Linked DNA regions of Homo sapiens: region 2 is linked to region 1. The links come from fine-mapping of genetic effects on gene expression. Tissue or cell type: whole blood. Region 1 holds a variant in brackets; the other region holds the start of a gene. All regions are shown on one strand. Distances are between the middles of the regions.

Region 1 (8,343 bases):
TTGATATATAACAGATGTACATATTTTCAGGGTACATGTGATAATTTAATACATTCATATATTTTATAAAAATCAAATCATGTCATTAGGTATCCTTTACCTCAAATATTTCTTTATGCTAGAAACATTCAAATTATTCTCTTCTATTTTGAAATATACAATAGATTATTGTAAACTGTAGCCACCCTACTGATCTATTGAATCCTAGGTCTTATTTTTCCTGTCAAACTGTATGTTTATACCCATTCATCAACCTCTCTTTGTCCTCCCCCCACACTTCCTGGCCTCTGGTACCACTAATATACTCTCTATCTTCATGTGATCCACTTTTTTAGCTCCCACATGTAAGTGAGAACATGCGATAGTTGTTTTTCTGTGTTTGGCTTATTCACTTAACAAAATGACCTATGGTGCCATCTATGTTGTTGCAAATGACAAGATTTCATTCTTTTTATGGCTGAATAATATTATATATATCACATTTTCTTAATCTATTTATCCACTTCTGGGCACTTAGGTTGATTTCATATTTTGGCCATTATGAATATCTCTGCAGTAAACATGGGAAGGCAGATATCTCTTCAATATATTGGTTTACTTTCTTTTAGATATATACCCAGCAGTGGAACTTCTAGATCATATGATAGTTCTATTTTTAGTTTTTTGAGGAACCTTCATACAGTTTTCCATAGTAGCTGTACTAATTTATATTCCCACTAACAGTTTATCAGGGTTCCCCTTTCTCCACGTCTTCTCCAGCATCTTTTTACAGAAAAGATATTCTTGGCCAGGCGCAGTGGCTCATGCCTGTAATCCCAGCACTTTGGGAGGCCGAGGCTGGTGGATCACCTGAGGTTGGGAGTTTGAGACCAGCCTGGCCAACATGGTGAGACCCCATCTCTACTAAAAATACAAAAATCAGCCGGGCATGGTGGTGGGCGCCTGTAATCCCAGCTACTCAGGAGGCTGAGGCAGGAGAATCGCTTGAACCTGGAGATGGAGGTTGCAGTGAGTCAAGATTGCACCATTGCACTTCAGCCTGGGTGACAGGAGTGAAACTCTATCTCAAAAAAAAAAAAAAAAAAAAGATGTTCTCTATTTTTTTTGTAAAAAGCCATTTTAACTGGGATGAAATGATATCTCATTTAATTTTGATTTGCTTTTCTCTGATGATTAGTGACATTGAGCATTTTTTCATATCTCTGTTGACCATTTGTATGTCTTCTTTTGAGAAATATCTATTCAGATCTTTTGCCCATTTTTAAACTGGATTATTTGGTTTTTTGTTACAGAGTTGTTTGAGCTCCTTATATATTCTGGTTATTAATCCCTCGTCAGATTGATACTTTGCAAATATTTTCTCCTATTCTGTGGGTTGTCTCTTCACTTTGTTGATTGTTTCCATGGCTGTCCTGAAGCTTTTTAGCTTGACATAATCCCATTTTTCTATTTTTGGTTTGGTTGCCTATGCTTTTGAGGTCTTCCACAAAAAATCTCTTTGCCCAGACCAATGTCCTGGAATATTTCTCCAATGTTTTCTTCTAGTAGTTTCATAGTTTCAGGTCTTACATTTAAATGTTTAATCCATTTTTATTTGATTTTTTTATATGGTGAGAGATAGGGGTCTAGTTTCATTCATCTGCATGTGGTTATTTAGTTTTCCCAGAACCATTTATTGAAAGGACTGTTCTTTCCCCATTGTGTGTTCCTGGAGCCTTTGTCAAAAATGAGTTCTCTGTAAATGCATGGATTTATATCTAGGTTATCTATTCTGTTCCATTGGTCTTTGTGTCTCTTTTTATGCCAGTACTATGCTGATTTGGTTACTATAGCTTTGTACTACATTTTGTTTTTTTGTTTTATTTTAGAGACAGGATTTTTCTCTGGTGTCCAGGCTGGAGTGCAGTGGTATGATCATAGGTCACTGCAGCCTCAGTCTCCTTGGGCTCATGGGATCCTCCTGCTTCAGCCTCCTGAATAGCTGGGGCTATAGGTGTGTACCACCGTGGCCAGTTCGTAGTGTATTTTGAAGTCAGGAAATGTGATGCCTCCAGCTTCGTTCTTTTTACTCAGGCTTACTTTGGCTATTTGAGGTCTTTTGTAGTTCCGTATAAATTTTAGGATTTTTTTTCTATATCTATGAAGAATGCCTTTGCTATTTTGACAGAGATTGCACCAAATCTATAAATTGCTTTGGGTAATATTGTTATTTTAACAATATTAATTTTTCCAATACATAGCATGGGATATCTCTCCATTTTTTTGCATCCTCTTCAATTTATTTCATCAGTTTTATAGTTTTTCTTGTATAGATCTTTCACTTTGGTTACATCGATTCTTAGGTATTTTACATTCTTTGTAGCTGTTGGAAATGGGATTGCACTCAACTTCTTTTTCAGATTGTTTGCTGTTAGCGTATACAAATGCTACTGGGTTTTGTATGTTGAATTATCCTGCAACTTTACTGAATTCATTCATCAACTCTAACGGTTTTTTGTTGGAGTCCCTTTTTTTTTTTTTTTTTTTTTTGAGGAGGAGGAGGAGTCTTGCTTTTATCGCCCAGGCTGGAGTGCAATGGCACGATCTCAGCTCACTGCAACCTCCGCCTCCCGAGTTCAAGTGATTCTCCTGCCTCAGCCTCCCAAGTTAGCTGGGATTACAGGCACCTGCCACCACACCTGGCTAATTTTTTTTTTTTTTGTATTTTTAGTAGAGACAGCATTTCACCGTGTTGGCCAGGCTGGTCTCAAACTCCTGACCTCAGATGATCTGCCCACCTCGGCCTCCCAAAGTGCTGGGATTACAGGTATAAGCCACTGTGCCCGGCCTTTTTTTTTTTTTTAAGAGAGAGACAGGATCTCACTGTATTGCCCAGGCTGGTGTCGAACTCCTGGCCTCAAGCAATCCAACCACCTCAGCTTCCCAAAGTGTTAGGATTACAAGTGTAAGCCACCACGCCCCATGGAGTCTTTAGATTTTTCTAAGTAGAAGACCATGCCATCTGCAAACAAGGCTAATCTGACTTCTTCATTTCCAGTTTGGATGCCCTTCATTTCCTTCTCTTGCCTAATTGCTCTGGCCAGAACTCCCAATACTACATGGAATAAAAGTGGTAAAAGTGGGCATCCTTGTCTTGTTCCAGATCTTAGAGGAAAGGCTTTCAATTTTTCTCCATTTATTACAATGTTAGCTGTGAGTTTGTCATAGATAGCGTTTATTATTTTAAGGTATGTTGCCTCTATACCCAATATTTTAGGGCTTTTATAACACGATGTTGAATTTTTTTAGAAAGCTTTTTCAGGGTCTATTGAAATGATCATATATGGTTTTTGCTCTTGGTTCTGTTACTATGATGTGTCATGCATATTGATTTGTGCATGTTGAACCATCCTTGCATCCCTGGGATGAATCCCATCTGATCATGGTGAAAGATCTATACTCACAATATTGTACAACCATCACCACTATCTATTTCCAAAACTTTTTCATCACACCAAACAGAAACTCTGTACCTACCAAGCAATAACTCCTCATACTCCCTGACCCCAGCTCCTAGTATCCTCTATTCTGCTTTCTGTCTCCATGAATTTGCCTTTTCTAGGTATCTTACATAAATAGAATCATAAAATATTTGTCCCTTTGTGTCTGGTTTCTTTTACTTAGAAATGTTTTCAGGCTTCATCTATGTTGTCAAATATATCAGAATTTCATTCCTTTTTAAGGCTGGATAATATCCCTAACAGTGTGTGAGGATCTCAGTTTCTCCATTTCCTTACCAACAGTTGTTTTTCCTTTTAAAAAATTATCATAGCCATCCTAGGATCTGTCTAATTTTGTCACATAAGGTGTTACTGTGGAAAGGAGCACGGATCTACGCAGAAGTCCAAGCCTCATCACTAACAGACTAACAGTGTGAGGTGGACAATCCTGGAGCTCTTAGTGCCTCAGTTTCTTTCTCTGTAAAGTGGAGCTAATAATGCCTGCCTGGCAAAGCTGTATAGGTGGAGTGAAGATAATGATGCATATAAAATACTAGTACAGACTCTAGAATGTGGTAGCTATTATTTTCCACAGAATGTAAACTTAATGGAGGCAGAGATTTGGTCTGTTAGGCACACCTTAGTATCCCAA[C/T]CCCTGGAGCAGTGAGTGGCACTCAGTAGGCACTCCAAAAACATCTGCGGAATGAATGAATGAACTCTTAACAAGCAGGGCTATGTGGAAGTGAGTTGTCATGGATAGTGAGGACCCTGTTACTGGCAGTGTTCAAGCGTGATCTGCATAAACACTGAGTGGCGATTATGTACTGGGCCCCGTGGAATAATAGCAAGATGGAAACGCACCCACCTAGCCTTCAAAGAGCAAAGGCTACAGAGTTGTGGGGACTTAAGTCCCCCATAACTTATGATGCAAGCCATGCAGGCTCCTGGCAGAGTGGGGTCCCCAGGGAAGATAGCCAGGAGGGCTAGGGGCTTGAGCTGGAGCACCCTTGGGGCAGGTGGGGCCCTGACCCAGTGAGGCCAGCCTGGCTGCGGCCACCTACCCTGTGCCAGGTGCTGCCAGACCGCGACGGAAAGCGCTGCATGTTCTGTGTGAAGACAGCCAACCGCACGTATGAGATGAGCGCCTCAGACACGCGCCAGCGCCAGGAGTGGACAGCTGGTGAGTGCTCGCTAGGTGGCTTGGGTCTGGGTGGTCCTTAGGCGCCTCATCTGTGAAAAGGGGGTGATAATACTTTGTCCAGCGGGAGGTTGGAGAGTGGACTCGGGAAACTCCTAAGGCCCCTTTCGGGCCGTGTGCGAGGATCCTACTGACCCGCTCCCGCTCTTCGGCAGCCATCCAGATGGCGATCCGGCTGCAGGCCGAGGGGAAGACGTCCCTACACAAGGACCTGAAGCAGAAACGGCGCGAGCAGCGGGAGCAGCGGGAGCGGCGCCGGGCGGCCAAGGAAGAGGAGCTGCTGCGGCTGCAGCAGCTGCAGGAGGAGAAGGAGCGGAAGCTGCAGGAGCTGGAGCTGCTGCAGGAGGCGCAGCGGCAGGCCGAGCGGCTGCTGCAGGAGGAGGAGGAACGGCGCCGCAGCCAGCACCGCGAGCTGCAGCAGGCGCTCGAGGGCCAACTGCGCGAGGCGGAGCAGGTGGGGTTAGCTCCCGGCGCCGGGGACGGGACCGGTGGGCTGGGAGGCTGGCCAGGGGCGGAGCGCCGGGGGCGGGGCCTGGGCAGAGGGCGGAGCTCCTGGGTTGAGGGGCGTGCACTGGGGTGGAGCTTGAAATGAGGGATTGTTGGGACAGAGTCCGCGGGTTTGAAAAAGAGATTTGGGATGGGGCTTCCGCCAGGGACAGAACCTGGGGCTAGGAAAGGGGTGTGGGGCGAGGTCCGAGCCCGTGGATGGATGGGGCCTGGTTCGGAGACCTTGGCTGTGGGTTGGGGCTTGGGCAGAAGGAGCCGTTGAAGACCGTGTGATTGGGGATTAGACTGGACCAAGTTTGGACTAGACTTGAACTAAGTTTACAGTGAAACCAGTTTGAGAGGCAAGCGGGACGCGTATGGAGGCGGACTAGGTGTGCAGAGGCAATTAGATTTAGGATTTAAGAAACCTGGATCTGGAGTCAGAAACACGTAGATTCAATCCTAGCTCTGCTTCTTACGAGCCCCGTGATCCCAGGCAAGTTCATTTTACTGAGCCTTATCAGTAAAATGCTAATGCTAATAGAACTTTGCTCACAGAGGTACGGTGAGGATTAAATGAGGAAACACTTGTAGTGTCCAGTAACTTTTTGTTGTAATAATTGTAGTTATAGTCACATCCTTCCTAGCATCAGCCATGATTATAACATATTATTATATATTATAATAATTATTAAGTTAGTGCTAGGAAGGAGATGACCATATTTTTATATCTTATTTAATTATATAATGTTGTTTAATTACATGTTATATAATTATGATTAAGGTTGGTACTAGGAAGGAAATAACTTGAGCCCGTTTCCCCCACGTGGCATCTGTTCACCGACCATTATCTGTTCCAGTCAGGCTCTCAGAAAGGGGTCAGATCAGGAAACCCCAACATGAAGGAGTTCCCCAGACCCTCACCCCTAGGCAGCTTAGCAACATGCCCACCCCCTCCTCCTCCGCCCCCACGTGCCCCTTTTGACCTGGCTCTTGGTCCACCACCTCCCCCCTCCACAGGCCCGGGCCTCCATGCAGGCTGAGATGGAGCTGAAGGAGGAGGAGGCTGCCCGGCAGCGGCAGCGCATCAAGGAGCTGGAGGAGATGCAGCAGCGGTTGCAGGAGGCCCTGCAACTAGAGGTGAAAGCTCGGCGAGATGAAGAATCTGTGCGAATCGCTCAGACCAGGTAGGCCTGAGGAACCTCTTCTGGTTCTCTCACCACCCCTCCTGGAACACACCCCAGTTTTCCTGCTTGCTGTGCACCTGCAAGGTGCCTTGGCACTAGAGGCTACACAGTACACACTCACCCGGCAGACTGCTGGAAGAGGAGGAAGAGAAGCTGAAGCAGTTGATGCAGCTGAAGGAGGAGCAGGAGCGCTACATCGAACGGGCGCAGCAGGAGAAGGAAGAGCTGCAGCAGGAGATGGCACAGCAGAGCCGCTCCCTGCAGCAGGCCCAGCAGCAGCTGGAGGAGGTGCGGCAGAACCGGCAGAGGGCTGACGAGGATGTGGAGGTGAGGCCTGGGGTGGGATGGGGTGGAGGCTGGCAGGGTGAGCTCATTAGGGCACAGGCTCTGGAGCCAGGCTGCCTTCCCTCAAACCCTGGCCCTAGCAGCTGCTGGCTGTGTGACTTTGGACAAATGCCCAAACTTCTTGGAGTTAGTCTCTCACCTGGGAAACTGGTAATAGCGTTGTTATGAAGATTAAATGAGATGATACATGATACTTAGTACGTAGTAAGTGCTGAAGAAACATTTGCTGCTATCTTTGTTCACATCATTATTAATCTGGGGAAAAATTTTTCCTTCTACCCTTCCAAGCCCCTGTCTTGCTATCCTTGTACTTTGGCTCTACTCCTTGGAGCTTTAATCTCCATAAATTCAAACACAGAAATATGGAACATAGAAAGGGAAAATTCCTCCATGATCCCCCCCACCTCACAACCACTGCTAATGGCTCCGTGAAATGTTGAACAGAGGTTCTTGGATTAGGTGCTGGAAAGGTGGTGTAGTGCAGTGGCTTAGAGCTCAAGTGTATCCCTGGGCAAGTCACTTAACCTCTTTTGAACTTTTTTGTTGTTAACTTCTGCTCTGGAAGTTAAATAAGATAATAAATATGCTTAGCACATCTTAGCTGCTCAATAAACGGAAACTATTATTATGGTTACATTTTATCTTTTGGAAGTCCATGAGTCCCATGAAATTGGAGGCAAACTCTATTCATGTATGTATTAATAACTCTATGAGCATATATGGTTTTTCTCTGGGGAGATGATCAGTAGTCTTGGTCAGATTTTAAGCAGCCTGCGAACCTGAAAAGATCAAGACTCCATGCCATGGATGATGGTTCTGATCACTCCCCACTGGCCCTGTCCCCACAGGCTGCCCAGAGAAAACTGCGCCAGGCCAGCACCAACGTGAAACACTGGAATGTCCAGATGAACCGGCTGATGCATCCAATTGAGCCTGGAGGTGAGAAGGAATAGACTCTGGAGCTTTCCCTGGAGCTGGGAGGGAGAAAGGAGGGAGAAAGGTCTCCCTGGGAGACCTCCAGATCTCCCAGGGCCAGCAAAAGCAGGACTGGCAGTCAGGAGGCTCCCCTCTCCTCTGAGGGCTGAGGCAAGGCCCCTCGCCTCTCACCTTTGCATGCCTTTCTCCTTACTTGCCTGCCTTCTCTCTGCCAGATAAGCGTCCGGTCACCAGCAGCTCCTTCTCAGGCTTCCAGCCCCCTCTGCTTGCCCACCGTGACTCCTCCCTAAAGCGCCTGACCCGCTGGGGATCCCAGGGCAACAGGACCCCCTCGCCCAACAGCAATGAGCAGCAGAAGTCCCTCAATGGTGGGGATGAGGCTCCTGCCCCGGCTTCCACCCCTCAGGAAGATAAACTGGATCCAGCACCAGAAAATTAGCCTCTCTTAGCCCCTTGTTCTTCCCAATGTCATATCCACCAGGACCTGGCCACAGCTGGCCTGTGGGTGATCCCAGCTCTTACTAGGAGAGGGAGCTGAGGTCCTGGTGCCAGGGGCCCAGGCCCTCCAACCATAAACAGTCCAGGATGGAACCTGGTTCACCCTTCATACCAGCTCCAAGCCCCAGACCATGGGAGCTGTCTGGGATGTTGATCCTTGAGAACTTGGCCCTGTGCTTTAGACCCAAGGACCCGATTCTTGGGCTAGGAAAGA
Region 2 (8,000 bases), 26 kb after region 1:
ACGGTTAAAATGTCGCTTTCTCTTTCTCCGTAGAAAGCCAGAGGAATTTGTGTTTTCTCCAGAGAGGGTGGGACAGAGGAGAGAATGGTGGGGCAGGAGGGAGAGTTAGTGATTTTGGAGGAGGCTAGAGGGTGCAGGGCCAGTTAGAAAACCTCAGCTGGGGGTGTGGAAAGGACTTCTAAAAACTTCTGAGGGGCCCCCTCCCCCTCCCCCGCTCCCTCTCCCCACGGTCTCCCTCTCTTTCCACGGTCTCCCTCTCATGCGGAGCCGAAGCTGGACTGTACTGCTGCCATCTCGGCTCACTGCAACCTCCCTGCCTGATTCTCCTGCCTCAGCCTGCCGAGTGCCTGCGATTGCAGGCACGCGTCGCCACGCCTGACTGGTTTTGGTGGAGACGGGGTTTCGCTGTGTTGGCCGGGCCGGTCTCCAGCCCCTAACCGCGAGTGATCCGCCAGCCTCGGCCTCCCGAGGTGCCGGGATTGCAGACGGAGTCTCGTTCACTCAGTGCTCAATGGTGCCCAGGCTGGAGTGCAGTGGCGTGATCTCGGCTCACTACAACCTACACCTCCCAGCCGCCTGCCTTGGCCTCCCAAAGTGCCGAGATTGCAGCCTCTGCCTGGCCGCCACCCCGTATGGGAAGTGAGGAGTGTCTCTGCCTGGCCGCCCATCGTCTGGGATGTGAGGAGCCCCTCTGCCTGGCTGCCCAGTCTGGAAAGTGAGGAGCGTCTCCGCCCGGCCGCCATCCCATCTAGGAAGTGAGGAGCGCCTCTTCCCGGCCGCCATCACATCTAGGAAGTGAGGAGCGTCTCTGCCCGGCCGCCCATCGTCTGAGATGTGGGGAGCGCCTCTGCCCCGCCGCCCCATCTGGGATATGAGGAGCGCCTCTGCCCGGCAGCGACCCCGTCTGGGAGGTGAAGAGCGTCTCTGCCCGGCCGCCCCGTCTGAGAAGTGAGGAGACCCTCTGCCTGGCAACCACCCCGTCTGAGAAGTGAGGAGCCCCTCCGCCCGGCAGCTGCCCCGTCTGAGAAGTGAGGAGCCTCTCCGCCCGGCAGCCACCCCATCTGGGAAGTGAGGAGCGTCTCCGCCCGGCAGCCACCCCGTCCGGGAGGGAGGTGGGGGGTCAGCCCCCCGCCCGGCCAGCCGCCCCGTCCGGGAGGGAGGTAGGGGGGTCAGCCCCCCACCCGGCCAGCCGCCCCGTCTGGGAGGTGAGGGGCGCCTCTGCCCGGCCGCCCCTACTGGGAAGTGAGGAGCCCCTCTGCCCGGCCACCACCCCGTCTGGGAGGTGTGCCCAACAGCTCATTGAGAACGGGCCAGGATGACAATGGCGACTTTGTGGAATAGAAAGGCGGGAAAGGTGGGGAAAAGATTGAGAAATCGGATGGTTGCCGTGTCTGTGTAGAAAGAAGTAGACATGGGAGACTTCTCATTTTGTTCTGCACTAAGAAAAATTCTTCTGCCTTGGGAAAAAAAAAAAAAAAAAACTTCTGAGGGGTGAGTTTAAACTGTTTGCCATGTATCATATGACCTCCCCCAGGGCCCAGAGTACCCTAATGTCTTTGTACTCGTCAATGTTTTGTGTGGGAAGGGTGCGGGCAGTCCTTAGGGAGAGCTGAGTTTCCTCTCCAGACTTCTGAACTGTGGTACGCAACAGCCTGGCAAAAGCAGAAACCCAGAGGCAGAGATATTTAGGAGAATATAAATCCCCAGATATTTGCAAATATGTTAAGGGAGGGACTCTGACTTTCACCGTCCATTTTTACCTCAATCTCAAAGGGCAAGGAGGTTGACATCTAAGTTACAAATATAATGCACAAGCATTTCAAAAAGTAGGGGAAAAAAAAGAAAAAGAAAAAGAGAAGCAGAAAGAAGGGGGAAAAAATCACTCATCCCTGCCAGGCACGGTGGCTCACGCCTGTAATTCCAGCACTTTGGGAGGCTAAGGTGGGAGGATAACTTGAGTCCAGGAGTTCAAGACCAGCCTGGGCAACATGGCAAAACCCTGTCTCTACTAAAATTACAATAATTAGCTGGGCGTGTGGCGCATGCCTGTAATCCCAGCTACTTGGGAGGTTGAGGCAGGATAATCGCTTGAACCCGGGAGGCGGAGGTTGCAGCGGGCTGAGATTGCGCAACTGCACTCCAGCAGGGGCGACAGAGTGAAACTGTGTCTCAAAAAAAAAAAAAAAAAAAAAAATCACTCATCCAGATAGCTAGGTGTGGCCTAAGGAGCTTGCGGCCTACGGAAGGTGTGGCCGAAGGAGAGGGGAGGGGTCATCTTTAATGATGATGGAGGGGAGGCATTGGTCATATACCTGAGAGTCAAGCTTTGTTCATCGTCAGATGAAAGCCAACTTCTTCCACCAGATTGCCTCCCAGCTGCTAGGTAGTTTCCTGTGGTACATCTTAAGCGGTAGGTTGGGATAATAGGTCCCTTCCAGGTCTTAAAGATGTGGATTAATAAGAACAGAATTTTCTACAACAATAAGGAGGATGTCCCCTATTTTAGGTGAATAAGCGTATTGCATAAGCACATGGGAAGAAAGGTTAAGAACTCTAAGACCGTAAATTTCCAGTTGTAGAAGCCTCTTGAAGGCGGAAAGCCCTTTTTTGAAAATTATAGGCGATATGATCTCCTCCAGTGGACCTAGCACTGGGTTAAGAGTCTCTCCAGACTTGTCACTGCAAGTCACGTACCTTTTCTAGGACTAAGTTTCTTCACTGGAAGATGAGGAGGTTGCACTAGATGACCTAGAAATTCCCTTCCAGCTTTAAATTCCCTCTTGTGTCACTTGCTGGACTTGTTCTACTGGACCTGGCGCTCCCCTGCTCCTCCCTTAGCTGCTACGTCCGCATCCCGCACCAGAGGGCGCCACAGGCTGGCCCGGGGCAGCGTGCGGTGGGCGGAGAGGCAGAATTAGGGGAGTCTCCAGGAGGCGTGGTGATTGGCCGCCGCCGGGCGGAAGGGGGCGTGGGGAGGGAAAGGCCGAGCAGCGCGGTGACGTCTCGCTGGCGGGGGCGGGGCCGGGCCGCGGAGCGTGTGACGCTGCGGCCGCCGCGGACCTGGGGATTAATGGGAAAAGTTTTGGCAGGAGCGGGAGAATTCTGCGGAGCCTGCGGGACGGCGGCGGTGGCGCCGTAGGCAGCCGGGACAGGTCAGTCCGAGACGAGAGAAGCGGTCAGGCAAGTGGCGGAGGGAAGCGCCGGGCCTGGGCCGAGGCGGCCAGCGGGACTGGGGCGCAAGGCCCGGCGGCGGGGAACGGGGTGCGGGGAGCTGCCGGGGTCCGCGGACAGCGTCACGGCGGCTTCCTGATGCTCCGGCCCGCTCCGGTCAGCCGTCGTGCGTTGCCATGTAGGCGCCCCGCTGACCCTGCGCCCCCCCGCCCTTGGACCCCCATAGCTGCTTGAGTGAGTCCGAAATACGGGCCTCCTTCCACCCTACTCTTTGCCCCCTCTTGGGCCTGGTGGCTTCGTCTTCTCCCACTTGTGAGAACCCCGTCTCAGGCCCGGGGGCCTCTCCCATTCCCCTCCCCTGCCTCTGACCTCTTCCTTCACCCGTTTCTGGTGTTCCTGAATCCACTGCCCTATCTAGCGAGAGTCTTCTCTGGGATCTTTTCCTCTGTCCCCCTCGTTATCCTTGTCTCCTGCCTTCATCCTCCCATCCTTGCTCTCTCAGGCTTTACTCTCTCTCCCCATCCCTGTCCCCTTCTTATCTGTGGTCTGATCCCTCCTAGTATTATGGGTCCCCATCCTCTTCCCCAGGGTGTTCCTAGGCTTTTTCCAACTCCGTGCCTGCAGTCCCTGTCTCCCTAAGACTCTCACCTTGGTTCCCTGAGAGGCCCTGTTTTTGCTCCTTTTTCCGATTTCCTTCGTATCAATTCTGTCCCCTACATTCCTGTCGCCCACCTCCTTTTCTCTCCCTGTTCCTTTCCCCTGCTTCAGGGAGAAGCCTTAGCTCCACACTCTACTCTACTTTCACTTGACCTGCAGTTGACATAACCATGGGGTGGGGGTGGAGGTGTTCAGACCTTGATCGAATTAAGAGGCTGATTGACTAAAGGAAATAACAGATTGTGTGGGAGAATGTACGTGGGTGTTGCATCAGAGATGATGTCCAATTTGTAGGCCATTCTTCTTATCTCAGCTTTAATACTTCCCCTTTATGGGGCTGTTGACTTCCAGGAACCCTTGGGGGAGACGGCGCTGAGCTGGATGTGTGCCACGGGTAGCCGGAGGCTTTGTCCAATTCTTTTCCCCTTCCAGGAACCGGGGTTTTGTGTCTTTCCACTCTGGATGTGTGGAATACACTTATACCATGATACCCCAGCCTCTCTCTGCCCTCACTCCCACCCTCCACCCTGTGCTCCATCCGAAAGGACTAAGAGAATTCTCCAGAAGCTGTGCTCCAGAAAATACTTGTGGTCCTCAACCTTTTTTCTGTGTACTGGCTCCAGAACTTTTTTTTTTCCCGTTTGAGTTTTGAAATAGATTGCTGGCCTGATAGCCCTGGGGCTGGCGGGCATCTGTCCCCTTTTATTATTGGTGGCTTGAAACAGCTGCTGATTTTCTCTCATATCTCTTTGACAATCTTTGGCCAACTGAATGTGCCTCTGATGTTGGTCACTGAACATGTTCTCTTGGAGTCTCTTCTCCCTCTTTTTTCTTTGTTCTTTTCTGAATCTAGGGAATCCAAATTGTCCCTCTTTTTCCCTGGGAGCTTAATTTCCTCTGTATCCAGGAGGAACGGCAATCCCAGAGCTCTGTTCCCTTTGCCCAGGCATAGTATGAGGTATCAGATTGATAACTACCCTGGTGGGCTGTGGGGCTGCAGTAGTTAGACCTTGTCAGGAACTTGAGCAGACACATCTGCTTCCAGTCACATAGATCATCTTCTCTGGGGCTTGAGAGCCCACCACCTTCCATGTGTGTCTGGATGTTTAACCTTACCAAGCAGAAGATTCTCGTCATATCCTTCAGTTTGAGCTCCTTTATTTGGCGTTGGTTCTCTAAAGAAGTATTCAAGAAATAACATATCCTTTGTTTCTACCCAGTCTGATCTTGGAGGATTCTGAAAGCGTGACCCACTCTCATGTTTAGAAATGAAGGCTCATTGTTTCACCTGGCCCCAGGTTTCTAGGGGCTCCTCTTTTGATGATTGTGCTGTCTTTGAGCCAGATTGGACATGGGAGTTGGCAACCTTTAGGAGCTGCGGTGGAGAGCCAAAGGAACCAGCTTGACCAGACTTTAAAGTTTTGTAATCCTCTTGTACACTGTTTTCTGTGAAAGCAATAGGATTGTGGATGGCCTGTTGTTGAGCCAGTCCCTTCTCCACTGACCCCCAGACCCCCTTTGCAGCACTTGCAAAGATTTGGGTAGACTGGACCAGAGGGTTTTCCTTGTTCCTGTGAATAGCATCTCTCCAGGGTTTTAGTGGATCATTCTAAAGAGGTAGAGGTCAAGTGTTGGACAGATTTTTAGTCTAGTCTCTGGCTTTCAAGGACTCCTCCTTACTCTTTTGAGCAGTTTGTTACTTCTGGCCGTGCTTACCCCTTAGTAGTGCTCTCTGCTGTGGTGGCAGGTGAGAGATTTGAGAACAGGTCAAGGCCAGTCCTTGTGGAGCAGCTTGGGCACCAGCAGCCCTAGATGGATAGCTTCTTGCAGTTTGTCCACTCTCATTTTCTGAGAAGGTAGTCATGATTGTCAATTACCAAATTCCTTCCCCATTCAGTGATTTTTGCAGAGTCTGGGTCTGGATTTTCTTTCCTTCTTTCTTTTCTGACACAAGGTTTTGTTCTATTGCCCAGGCTGGAGTGCAGTGGTGCTATCATAGTGCACTGTAACCTCGAACTCCTGGGCTCAAGGGATCTTCCTGCTTCAGCCTCCAGAGTAGCGGGGACTACAGGTGCACACCACCACACTCAGCTAATTAAAAAACAATTTTTTTGTAAAGACAGGCTCTCACAATGTCTCGAACTCCTGGCCTCAAGCAGTCCTCCTCACCTTGGCCTCTCAGAGCACTGAGATTACACTGACTGCTCGTTCAGGTGCCTTTCTCCTTGCCTCTTCACCATGGCCTTCTTGTGTGATATATGCCTTAACCCATTCAGGAAGAATTGCTCCTACTCAGCCTTTCAACCCGACCTGTGGTCCCTTAGACGCCTTCCCTTAGGGCCTGGTAAGAGGATAGACAGTGTAGAGCACTAGCCTGGGAAGCCATTAGGCCTCTGCTTTGGGCCTACAGCTGTCCTGACTGTTGTGCAAGCTGTCTTCAGGGCCTGCAGATTCTGGCACATCCTGGGATAGTGCAGCTCCTCTCTCTCAGGAGTTGGACCTGTCACTTTTTTTTCGTTTTTTTTTTTTTTTTTTTTGAGATGGAGTCTCGCTCTGTCGCCCAGGCTGGAGTGCAGTGGTGCGATCTTGGCTCACTGCAAGCTCCATCTCCCAGGTTCACGCCATTCTTCTGCCTCAGCCTCCTGAGTAGCTGGGACTACAGGCGCCCGCCACCACGCCTGGCTCATTTTTTTTTGTAGTTTTAGTAGAGACAGGGTTTCACCGTGTTAGTCGAGATGGTCTCGATTTCCTGACCTCGTGATCTGCCCGCCTCAGCCTCCCAAAGTGCTGGGATTACAGGCGTGAGCCACCACAACCAGCCTGGACCTGTCACTTCTAAGGGCTTCAGCTATATCCTGTCCCTGAGGCCCACCTCCCTGAGTGCTCTCTGCAGGCTGGGAAGCTGAACAGTGGTGCCTTGCTCCAGTGCCTCTGAAGGGCTTGGAAATTGCAGGACACAGCTTTACTGCTCAGCATTGCCCACACTGGAAACATTCTCTTCCTCCCTACCCAGGTCTCTGTGGGCTTTGTCCGTTCTGCCAGGCCCTTGCTTATATGATGTCAGAAGCCCTGTGCCCGGTGCCATTGTCAATGCCATGTCCCAGATTACCTAATGGCTGCTTCTTGGAGATGGTTTGGTGTCCATGCACATTTTTCTCTGCCGTTGGAGCCAGGGTGAGGAGCTGCTTGCAACAGCTGGATTCCAGGGTGTCAGAGGAGCCCTTGGAGCTTGCCTTGAGCCTGGCAGGGAGAACATGGCCCCTTGCATCAGGTTTCAGACATATGGGTCTTCTTCCTTGGCAGATGGCTCCTAGCCTTCATAACTCAGCAGGCTGGTGATTGGCATGTGACTCCAGTTCATTCTGCAGGGGCTTTGGTGAAGGCATCAACTATGACTCAGGACATCTTCATTTATGAGCTTCTACCCAGCTCCCTTCTTACCTTGCCTGCGCCTTCTGCGCCGACCTGATAAAATCAGCAAAGCCAGTGTCTGCTTACTTGGGAGTGAGCAGACTCCTTCCAGGATTGGGGAAATATTTGCTGACTCAGGCTCAGAATCACATCTCAGGGTGGTGTGTAAGGGACCGACGAGGAGCCAGATTACCTTAGGAACACTCTTTGAGTTACGGTGGGTATAACTTATTAGAGTTGCTTTGAGGGCCCCTGGCACCTGTCAGCTAAAGCTGTTGGGGTTTTTTCTATCCTGCAGTGTTGTACAGTGTTTTGGGCATGCACGTGATACTCACACAGTGGCTTCTGCTCACCAACAGATGAAGACAGATGCACCAACGAGGTAATCCCATTTTCTTTACTCAGGGGTCTCTGACCACCACTGACACAGGATCCAGATTTAAGATCCTGACCTTGAAGATGAAATAATTTCACTAGGGCTTATTCCCAGATTCCAGGTTCCTGTCACAGCATCTGGTACCAGTTGCTTATGCATAGTATAGGCATTTATTAAGTAATTATTGAAAGTCTATGGCTTACATAGTTTTTTCAGGAGCATGGAGATTCCCACCTTTGCGCCCATTAAAAGATAAACTCCACAGGGCAGGGAGTTGTTTTGCTGCCTGTTGTGTCTAGGATAGTGCCTGGCACAGAGGAGATAATGAATAAATTTTTGTTGAATGAGTAAATGAACGAACTTTCGTCTTTGCCTATATGGGTAC

Evidence for each region. PIP is the estimated chance that this variant, and not a neighbour inherited with it, causes the effect.
Region 2: it holds the start of PPARD, and the variant in region 1 is fine-mapped to the expression of PPARD in whole blood (TOPMed, PIP 0.95).

Annotation. Positions count from the first base shown.
Region 1 is chr6:35,313,341-35,321,683 of GRCh38, forward strand. DEF6 (DEF6 guanine nucleotide exchange factor) reads left to right here. Exons shown (of 11, transcript NM_022047.4): 6 at 4,551-4,659; 7 at 4,833-5,131; 8 at 6,184-6,350; 9 at 6,479-6,677; 10 at 7,544-7,634; 11 at 7,847-8,343. The coding sequence ends at 8,070. Among named protein-coding and RNA genes, the nearest start is that of DEF6, 20 kb to the left of the region's middle. The variant C/T (reference allele first, on the strand shown) is at 4,132.
Region 2 is chr6:35,339,530-35,347,529 of GRCh38, forward strand. It overlaps PPARD (peroxisome proliferator activated receptor delta), which reads left to right and starts at 3,029. Exons shown (of 8, transcript NM_006238.5): 1 at 3,029-3,152; 2 at 7,538-7,621. RefSeq lists silencers at 2,881-3,090, 3,271-3,410, 3,441-3,490.